2 separate regions of the Homo sapiens genome follow, and region 1 is linked to region 2. Evidence: fine-mapped QTL for protein levels in blood plasma. Region 2 holds a variant in brackets. A gene starts in the other region. All regions are shown on their reverse strands. Region 1 holds the start of CD5L (CD5 molecule like). Region 2 overlaps LINC02318 (long intergenic non-protein coding RNA 2318).

The links. PIP is the chance, under the fine-mapping model, that this variant and not a neighbour inherited with it causes the effect. Protein levels are from antibody-based Olink assays in UK Biobank. Linkage for the fine-mapping came from a reference panel and not from the study's own genotypes, which makes the PIPs less certain.
Region 1: CD5L starts here. The variant in region 2 is fine-mapped to the plasma level of the CD5L protein (UK Biobank, PIP above 0.99).

What each region holds. Positions count from the first base shown.
Region 1 is chr1:157,839,507-157,844,891 of GRCh38, reverse strand. It overlaps CD5L (CD5 molecule like), which reads left to right and starts at 3,084. Exons shown (of 6, transcript NM_005894.3): 1 at 3,084-3,218. The coding sequence starts at 3,191.
Region 2 is chr14:95,574,133-95,579,517 of GRCh38, reverse strand. The region is part of intron 1 of LINC02318 (long intergenic non-protein coding RNA 2318); the gene reads right to left. Among named protein-coding and RNA genes, the nearest start is that of LINC02318, 3.3 kb to the right of the region's middle. RefSeq lists enhancers at 1,855-2,776, 2,777-3,699. The variant C/T (reference allele first, on the strand shown) is at 2,309.

The sequences.
Region 1 (5,385 bases), not on the chromosome of region 2:
AGTCTAAAGCCTCGGTGATGTTCTATCTCACAATACAATCATTCATGCATTCATTTGTTGAGTCAGCAATCATTTATTACATTCTAAGCACTTGATGTATAAAGGGGAGCAATTTGGATGGTTTTCTACTCTCACAGAGCCATAATTGACATACTCAACTATTTACCCAAGGGGTTTCACCTTGATGCCAAACCAGCAGGACATGAAGCTTGCCCTTCCTGAGAGGGCCCCTCAGAGTGTCTTCTAGCTTTTGTTGTGTGTCATGTATTGACGTCCTCCAGACAGGTATCTACTTCCGCACAGCTTTGGGCTTCCCCAACCTGTGCCTCCCATTCCACCTCCCTCTTCTTGCCGGTCCTCTTCTTGATAACCTCTTCTCAATTCCCTAAATCCCTCAGCTTCTGAAACTTCTTCCTTCACTCTCTTCTCATACCCTGGTTTGTGCCTGGTCATTGCCCAGAACAGCTTCTCTGAAACCTCAAGCACTTCTCTCCAAATCTCTGAACAACTTCCTATACCTTGAACTTTCTAACACTCTCCTTTTCCCCAGCACTTCCTCACTGAGGTTCCCTTTCCCAGAACTTATTTCTGTTTTCACTTTACATCAGCCCATGTCCTGATCTTCTCTAAGCCTCATACACCAGTTGGGCGGGCCCCTCAGCTTGATCTCTGGCTTTATGGGCCTCTCACACCAGCCTTCTGTCTGCAGCCTGAGAAGATTCCACAGCTGGGCACATGGATGCTGCTTACAAATGCAAGTTTTTCTACCCAGTGCTGAAAACAGATAGTTTACTTATCTTTTTCAGACTCGCTTTCCTTTTAGTGATTATTTCAGACCTTTACCACTTTTTAGAAGCTGCCAGCCAATACAGCCTACTTGCTCACATTAAGTAACTTTTATCCTCCAAACACAGTAAGTTTTAGGTACGTTCTTCTACCTCCTATTGAAGTCCTCCTCTGCTCTCTCTGGTGCAGTGGTCTCTTAATGGGTCTTAATGACCCATTACTGGTCTTCATCCCAATTCCTGCTCAGTGCTGCAGCCAAAATACACACCTTAAATGTGTAACACCCTTCGGTGGCTTCTTGTGTCCTGTGGGATAGTGTCCTTCCTGGCTAAAAAGCTTCCTTTTCCTTTCTTCATGTTCTCACGCCTGTTCATAAAATACTATATTGGGAGGAAAAGTTTTCTTTTTCTTTTCTCTTCTTCTTTCACTCAATTTTCCACATGGAATGGGGAAAATATATTTCTGAATCATGAAGCCTGTGTTTGCTAATGGGTTTGTCTGCCCTCAAGCCACACAAAGTCTTTTCTTTTCCAAGGGTAAACTCTGTTGTGCACATCTAGCTCCTGAAGAATGGAGGTAAATGCATAAAGCCTTAGATCCCAGTGGCAGTCTAATGTAGTTCATCAACAGTAAAGATGATATTTTGAACCTTTTCTGAATTCTGTACCTATTACTGTGTCACTTCAGAATCTAGAGAGGGAAGGATGTGAATAGTTAGCATTTACAAACTCATTCATGATATACCCTCCATTATCTGGCTCTTGTTGCTACTTGCATATCATCTAGTGTCTTTACCTTTCAACATCAAGAAGCCCTGGCCCCTGATCACTAAGCAGGCTGTAATCCAGTCATTCCAAACTACCTGTGGTTCCTTGAATAAGTAATGCTGTTTCACTTGTCTGCATATGCATAGCAAAATCTTTTCCTATTCTGATTCTCCACTTAACTCATCCTAAACCCCTGCTCAAGTATCATCATTGCTGTGAAGTCTTCTCTGATTAGCTCCAAACATAGTAACCATTTCCTCCAAGGTTTCATTTCTTTTTCTTATTTTAGAGATGTGATCTCACTCTGTCACTCAGGCTGAGGTTCAGTGGCCTGATCATAGTTCACTGCAGCCTCAAACTCCTGGGCTCAAGCTATCCTCCCAGTTCGGCCTCCCAAAGTGCTGGGATTACAGATATGAGCCACCTCGCCTGGCCTCCAAAGTTTGTTATACTTTTCTCTCTTAACAGTGGTTTCCACATGTTATTGCAATTACTAGACCATATATTTTTACAGTGCAAAACTATCCCTTGTTCCTTCATGTACTGCCTCCACCCATCACATTGCCTGGCATTCATGAGTGCTAAAAACTTTTCATTGAATACAATACTAAGTAAATGAAGAAATGTGGGATTAAAAATGAATGCCTACAATGAACCAAGCTTTCTGCTGAGTTACCTGAATATTACAAAGAAGCAAAAATTATTACTGTAGAGGAACAATTACCCTGCTTGGAATGCAGAGATTATGTCAGCATACAAAATTGATTGCTTGATCAATCTGGAGTAGAATAGCTCATGAAGCATAGCTATACTTAATAATATAGCAAAGCAGAGGGGCCTGAGAGGGTCTTACTGCTTAATCTCTGTCCATCATGTCTTAGACCTACAGACAACTTGAGTTCAATGATTATGATGCCCCTCACCTCAGGGATCTGTTTCCATCCAGCTTCCAAAGATGGGCATACACCAGCACAAGCATAGAAAAATAACAAATCTGTATATTGGACCCTCTGCTTAGCAGTGAGAAAGCAGGTTTGAAGACAATAAAGCCAGGCCTGTATGTGGAGATTGGCACCATGACCCTGGATTATGTTTTATGGGATATGCCTCCAAGGGCAACTCTGCATTTATCCCATGGCCTCTGGCTTCCAAATTTTCTAGGCACTTCCCTCTGGGGTAAAGGAATCAAAATTGGCTTATTTCCCTTGCAAACCATCCTTGGCGACTAAGTACTGCCTTGTCTTCTACTGAGAGATGGCCATATTTTTGGCACCTGCCTTTCCTTGTGGGAGGTGTTTCCTCTGTTTACATAGCAAAGGGGCTGTAGGAGAGACAGACGGAGCTGGACTTACAGCAGAACCAAGTCATGATAGCCTGTTTCTATTTTGTTTTCAGCATTTTTCCGCCAGTTCTGGCCACCTCCTTTCCTCTGGAACATGCTGATTTCAGCAAGTCCAGCTCTGTCAGCTCTGCCCCCCGAGTCTATTGGTTTCTGATCATCTGATAATGCTTTGCCTGCACTCAGGACCTGTCTTTGTCCCTCCTCTTAACATACTTGCAGCTAAAACTAAATATTGCTGCTTGGGGACCTCCTTCTAGCCTTAAATTTCAGCTCATCACCTTCACCTGCCTTGGTCATGGCTCTGCTATTCTCCTTGATCCTTGGTGAGTATCTCTGCACCTGTTGGTTTAGGCTTCAGAGTTTTCTGGCACTTTGATTAGGAGAACTTTCTCCCCGCCAACCTGGAACAGATTTAGATGTTTTTCAAGGATGAGCTTCTTCCTCCTTTTTACATTTGGTAACTATTCTAATCCTTAAAAAGCCGCTTAATCCATACACATTTGTAATTCACTTTAACAGATTTTTTTCTATTTTCTTATATTTGTAATGACAGAGTCATGATAGTTTATCCCATTTCTCTTTTTACATAAGTGTTCCTAAATGTACTATTAGTAAGAAGACAAATGAATGGGCACCGGGCAGCAGCAAGTAGAGCCAGGAAAGGAAGTAGAACTGCAAGACAATCACCTTTCATTGATCATATTGTCTGGTTTCCTCTGAAAAGTGTTTCATATAATGTTTTTCTAGTTTTCTTCAGTTTCTCATTGCTTAGAGTAATCTAGAGATTAACCTAGTTAATCTGGTGATTGTGGAGCCAAGGAGACCTGGATTTCAATCCTGCCGTTTTGATTTCTTAGCGGTGTGAATTCGTAGGTTACCATACCTCTCTGAAATTTTGCTCTCTCATCTATGAAGTGAGGATAATATTATGTTCCTCAGAGGTTTTTAGGAGTATTTTTTTTTATAAGATAACTAATATAAAGCATCTAACAATGCCTGGTAAATCCCTATGCTAATCAATCACATCCACTTTTATGTCTTGATGATCTAGTACATCACCAAAGCCCACACAATCCTCTCAACTGGACACTTTTGTGTTCAATGTAAGGTACTGACCACATCTTAAACATCCATGCATCCCCCACATCACTCAACGGCTAGTCCTGCCCCTCATGGATATACTACTGGGTCTTCCAGGCTCATGTGCACTTCCACCTGCTTCATGAAGCCTTTCTGGCCTGTGCCTTCTGCAGTTACCCACCCTACTGCAGAGCTTCCAAGTCACTTACTGGCTATATCACGTTTGCACCTGCATATCAGGCTTGCCATGCTCACTTTCCTTCACATGTACACATGTTGGGTTGGGGTTATGCAATGATTCCCATATGTATAATATAACCTTGAGTTTTGGATAGTTGCAGAAAAGGCCTCATTGAGCCTGAGAGTGGCCACATTCTGAAGATTAAGGGAATGAGGGTAATGAGAGGTTATTTGGAAACCAAGAAAAGAAAATATTCCAGGATAAACCACTGAACTACTTGAATCTGCCTGAAAAACTGTAGGCTGGAGGTCCAAAGATATTTGCACCTTCTGAAAAATCCTATAAGATGGGGGTGGTGGGTGTTTTGCAGTTGAAAATGCATAGGCCTCAGGGACTCCTGGAGGTTACAGGGCCCAGGACTCTCTACAGCATTAGGAGGGACCTTATGGAGAAAGGAGTCCAAATATACAGAGATCCTGCAGGAAGAAACCCCCATGTTTTAAAGACAGGCTGGTGCTGGAATCTGGAGGTTTGGAACTACATATAGAGCTACTTCCTGAGCTATTCATCTAAATCAGCTAAAACAGCCTGCAAGCTGATAATGAGGTTTGTATTTTTAAATGGTAGGAAAAAAGCAAAAGAGAAATACTATTTTATGACACATGAAAATGACAAAAAATTTAAATTTCAGTGTCTAATAAAGGTTTAATGGAACATAGCCGTCCTCACTTGCATACATATATGTGGCTGTTCTCAGGCTACAATGGCAGAGCTGAGTGGTTGCAACAGACACTGTATGGCCCACAAAACTGAAAATATTACTGTCTGGCCTCTTACAGTAAGAGTTTGCTTACCTGGTCTAAATGCTGTGCCGATGAACACAGGCATATCCTGCCCCTTTGCCCTAATTTCTGCTCTGCCCACCATGGCATCTTTACCTCCACCGGCCAGTGCATCTTCCCAGTGGCCTCCAGCACTCTTTCCTGTTGAGCCAAGAGGCTGTATCACCACACTTTTCTTCAGGCAGTAACAACCAATCAATCTAATTGACTAGAATAGAAAACCAATCTATCCACCATCACGTGTGAAGAAAGCAGGCTGAACCAGTTAGCTGTGGTGGAATTGGTCTCTGTGATTCCTAGCCAGTGTCCCTGTGTCCTTGGAGGATGGTCATCCCAGAAGAAGAAGGTCCCAACAGGACTGACATTGGAGGCTCTGCATCTACCACT
Region 2 (5,385 bases):
GGCCAGAAAATGTCCTTTTTTTTGAAATCATGCTGAAGTATTTAGGAATAAAGGGACGTCATGTCTGCCGCTTACCTGAACTGATTCAGAAAATAATAACGTACATGGACACATACATGCATACATACACACACACAGATAATGATAAGGTGATGTAATCAGATAAAAAATGTGGGAATCTGCTGAAGGGTATAAAGGAAATTTTTGTACTATTCTGGCAATTTTTCTCTAAATTTGAAATTGTTCCAAAATATAAAGTTTTTTTTTTTTTAATATTGCATTGCCAACACCCTTGATCACACAGAGGATATCTGTAACTCTGAGTTGGAAAGTTATTTAAAAGAAGTAGGATTTCTCGGCTGGGCGCGGTGGCTCAAGCCTGTAATCCCAGCACTTCGGAAGGCCGAGGCGGGCGGATCACTGGGTCAGGAGATCAAGACCATCCTGGCTAACACAGTGAAACCCCGTCTCTACTAAAAATACAAAAAATTAGCTGGGCATGGTGGCGGGCGCCTGTAGTCCCAGCTACTCGGGAGGCTGAGGCAGGAGAATAGTGTGAACCCGGGAGGCGGAGCTTGCAGTGAGCCGAGATCGCGCCACTGCAATCCAGCCTGGGCGACAGAGCAAGACTCCTTCTCAAAAAAAAAAAAAAAAAAAAAAAAAGAAGTAGGGTTTCTCTATTGAGATAATCATATGATTAAAAACAATATTTAAAAAAAGAAGAAGGGTTTGAAGGTGAAGATATTTTTAAAATAATTAACCAATTTATTTCACTCATATTTTCTTTTCTATATATGCAAAAGCACAATAAATAAGCAAAGCCTATGTCTAACTGAGTTTAAAAGAGCTCTTTATAATGAGTTTACAACAAAAATTCTAAATGCGAAGGAAATACTGTATTATAGTTTAATAGTTAGCTGTTTTTCTTTCTTCGTGGTACATAAAATAGTGATACATCCTTGAATTATAAAAACAAAAAAAAGTACATAAATATTTTTAACTCTGACTTTGCCACTGATTAAATGTGTGACCTTGGGCAAGTCCTGTGCACATGTTTTCCCCATTAGTAAGACTGGATGACAATATTTACTGTGCAGAGCTGTTAGTGTTATCAAACCCCAAATTTTGGGTTCATGTACCTGATATACAGCAAACCTAACACCGACACATCAGCACTTAGAAGCAGAGGAAGGTTTATTTGACTCGGCTAAAGCAAGAAGGCAGGAGAAGCAGCCTCTCAAATCCAATCTGCCTTTTAACATAACTGGGGGCTTTTATGAGCAAAGCAGGTATGCAGGAGATGGATTCCCCCAATACTCAAAACTGTTTGAGTTCCTCGGCCCAAACAAACTCCTAGATGCTATCAAGGAGGTCTGCATGACCTAAGGATCATTGTTCTTTGAAAGAAAAACAGTTCATCAATCTTGCAGGCAGCCCTGGGGGTTAGGGTAGGAAGTTAATCAATTACTAGTGACTTCCCTCGTGCAAGCAAGCATGCACGGAGGAAGAAAAGGACAAGGAAATAAGTAAAGTGAACATCTTATGATCTTTATAATAAAGGCTTAATTACATTGGGAGGATTAAAACATCATTGTAACAATAATACCAGTAACAATGACATTTAAGCCAGTGTGTCTACTTGTCAGGCACTGCACTATCAAATACCAGCAGCAAGTCTGGCACAAAATAGATGCTCAATAAATGGTAGCTATTGAATCAGGGCCACACATTTAATTGATATTATGATCAAGATGTTCAAGGGAAAAAATACTATTACTTATTTAATGTGGAACAAGTCTAGTCTTTCTCTTGAGCTCCCACCTGCTGGTTAGGAGGCAACAATGTTATTTGGATCCTGTTTAGAGTATTCTCAGAGCTGAGCCCTCAAATTGTATCAGTCTTACTTATGCACCTGTCCTGTTGGCCGTCCTTGTGCTGCCCCTGACACCTGCCTGCTCCCTAAGGCGATGTGGGGAGAGGAGCATATACATTCCAACGTGCTGTAAGGATAGAGATCCTGGCCGGTCCCTGTGAGGCAGGAGAATAGGGCCTGGAGGCCATGAACGTAAGGCTGATCCATGCTGACTTCCTAGAACAAAATCAAATGGAATATAAATGGCTTTGTAACCTCACTTCATCCTCTCCATTTACACCGTTTACACTTTGTAACTTCACATTCATCCTCTCCATTTACATAAACCGCACACACAGTGACATCCTCTCCATTTACATAGACCACACACGCCAAGTGACATCCGCTCCATTTACACTTTGTAACTTCATATTCGTCCTCTGCATTTACATAGAC[C/T]GCACACACCAAATAACATCCTCTCCATTTACATATTCTGGGCACATTCTGAGTAAATGACTTTGTAACTTATCTTCATTGTCTTCATATACATAGAACATATACCAAGTAACCAGTGGAAAACGTCTAGAGAGTATTGAAACCCCAGAAAATTCTGTAACCAGGGCTCATGAGCCCCTATGCTCCGGCCTGCTCCCACACTGTGGAGTGTACTATCATTTTCAATAAATCTGTGCTTTTGCTTTCCTCACTTTGTGCGTTTTGTCCAATTATTTGTTCAAGACGCCAAGAACCTGGACACCTTCCACCAGTAACACCTGGATGTGCCCCTGGCATGCATGGGTCCCCACAGTCACCTCTGCCCCTGGAGCCCCTGGGGGCCAGGGTAACTCTCAGTCTGATCTTGGGGCTTGTTAGAGGTGCAGGATCCCTCTTGGATTGCCATTGCTGTCACCTCCAGCCAGCCCGTTGGCCTGAGTGCCACCTTCCCTTGCCCAGGCCAGGCCCTTGGGCAGTTCATTCAGCCTCTGTACCACTCAGGAGAAAGCGAAAACTTAAGGTTCCTCAGCTGACCCTCCTGGCACCTTTCTGAAGGTGGGCTCCAGGGCCAGAGGCAACAGCCTCCTCCTTGCCATGAATATCCTCATGGATCCAACACCCTATCTTCCAGACTTGGGCCCAGGAAGAAAAATCAGAAAACAAGCTTCTGCCTCATTGGCCTTCCAACCTCTAGTACCTCCTCCTTTCTCTCCCATGACTCTCTAGGTTCCCATGGGGCTGGCTGCTCTCCCAGAGCCTCCCTGACTCCACTCTCAATGGTGGCCTGGTCTTCCCCAAGCAGACCATGGGGATCCCTAAGAGCCTCTAGGCTTTGTCCTTGATATGCTAATGGAGGAGATAAAGGAATCCCAGCACTTCTTCTCTTCTCAAAGCTTTCAAAACCAGGTCTCACACAGCCTCTCCTGCCTTGGGACAATAAGCCTTCTGGCTCCCCTGGAGGGAGCAGCTGCAAGAAAACCAAATTCAAAGCAAGAAGTGAAAATGCAGTGGTTTAAATTTACAGAAAGATTCTCGTTTGTACATTATTATGATAATTATGGCCCTGGGAATCCGGGTGAGGTCTCCAGAGCTTCAGTACACACTTCAGGCAGAGCATTTGCAAATTCATGGTCTTAAATCCTTAGGACAGAAAGATGTGAAGGAAAGCCAGGGAAGCAGAAGTCCTTAGGAGACCTGGGTCCTGAACTCTCCAGAGCTCATGGATCTTCTTGGATAATGAAATTCAGGGGTTGGAAGAGGCTATTTCTAAGGGAGGGCTTTCAACTCGGAGAGTCTCTGGCCAAAGGTTCTAATTCCAGTACTTCCAATTTTTGATTAACACTGCCAAATACAATCACAATTTTAAAATTCAGGGTACTTAAGGAGTTTAGGATATTAGGTTCTGCCAGAATAGCCTCTGCAGGGATGTGGAATGGCTGCATCCATCTGCCCAGGAGAAAGAGGGATGGGTACTGGGGAGGGTTCATTAGCAGGAAACTTTCCAGGGCAGATGAACACGAGGACAGAGCCCAGCTGAAGGGAACCAACAGGGAGTAGGAAAATCCAGAGCAAGATGGCAGATGTGAGGAACTGAGTGGGGTCAGTCTGGAGAATCTCACCAGCAAGTACAGAACCAGTTTTTGTCCCTTCCCATGCTCAGCAAGCCAGTAGCATGTTGATCTGCTAAAATAGCTGCCTACAGGATTTTCTGCCTCAATTCCTGACCCCTCCAATCACTTCCCCACCCTACAGCCAGAGAACCCACCACCTTTTGGGATCTTCCCATTGATCAGGATAAAGATCATGGCTGACAAGGCCCTGCATGGTCAAGGCCCAGCGGTTCTCAACCCTGACTGCATATAGGAATCATATTGGCCCAATCCCAAGGGATTCTGATTCAGTTAATCTGGGATGAGGTCTGAGCATCAGTATATATATAATATACTAATATATATTTATATATACTGGTGTATATATACATGTATACTGATATATTTTATCAGTATATATTTTTATTGATTTTTCTATATTATATATAATATATATCTATAAAAATATAAAATATATCTATATATTTAAATATTTGTTTCTATATACTGATATATTAAATATATATTTATACTGATATATACTTATATCAGTATAAACATATTAAATATATATTATATATAAATATATACAAACTATATGTTTATATATATTTAATCTCCAGGTGATTCTAACTGGCACTAAGGATTGCCAGCCCCCTGCTTTGGCCCTGCAAACTTCAACCTTATCTCATGACAGTCCCCCTCTCGGTTTCTTTGTGGCACAGCAACATTGCCCACTTTGCCCCAGTCCTTTTTTTTTTTTTTGAGACGGAGTCTCGCTCTGTCGCCCAGGCTGGAGTGCAGTGGTGCAATCTCGGCTCACTGCAAGCTCCGCCTCCCAGGTTCACGCCATTCTCCTGCCTCAGCATCCTGAGTAGCTGGGACTACAGGGGCCCGCCACCACGCCCGGCTAATTTTGTTTTTGTATTTTTAGTAGAGACGGGGTTTCACCGTGTTAGCCAGGATGGACTCCATCTCCTGACCTCTTCATCCGTCCACCTCGGCCTCCCAAAGTGCTGGGATTACAGGAGTGAGCCACCGTGCCCGGCCTGCCCCAGTACTTGTAATATGTCAATCTGCCTTTCCCTCGGGCCATTACACTTCTTTATCTCCTATGCCCGGAAAGCCTAGTCATTTCTGAGACCTTGACTCAAACACCCCTTCTGGAGGGAAACCTTCCTTGGCCTGCTGGACTAGACTATGTTATCCTCTTACACGCTGTATCCTCCAGGGTCAAATTAGGAAAACAGAGGCCACTTTAGGTGTTTCAAGTAGAAAGAATTTAAATCCTAGAAGTCGGTTACACGGGTGAGGAAAATGATGAGAAGCCCAATGGGACGGTGTAGCAATGACAGTGAGCTGCTGCCACCCCTGAGGCTGGAAGGGTAACAGACATTTGCCAGGAGCTAGAAGCTGGGGCAGCCTGGTAGGAGCTAGAATACAATGAGA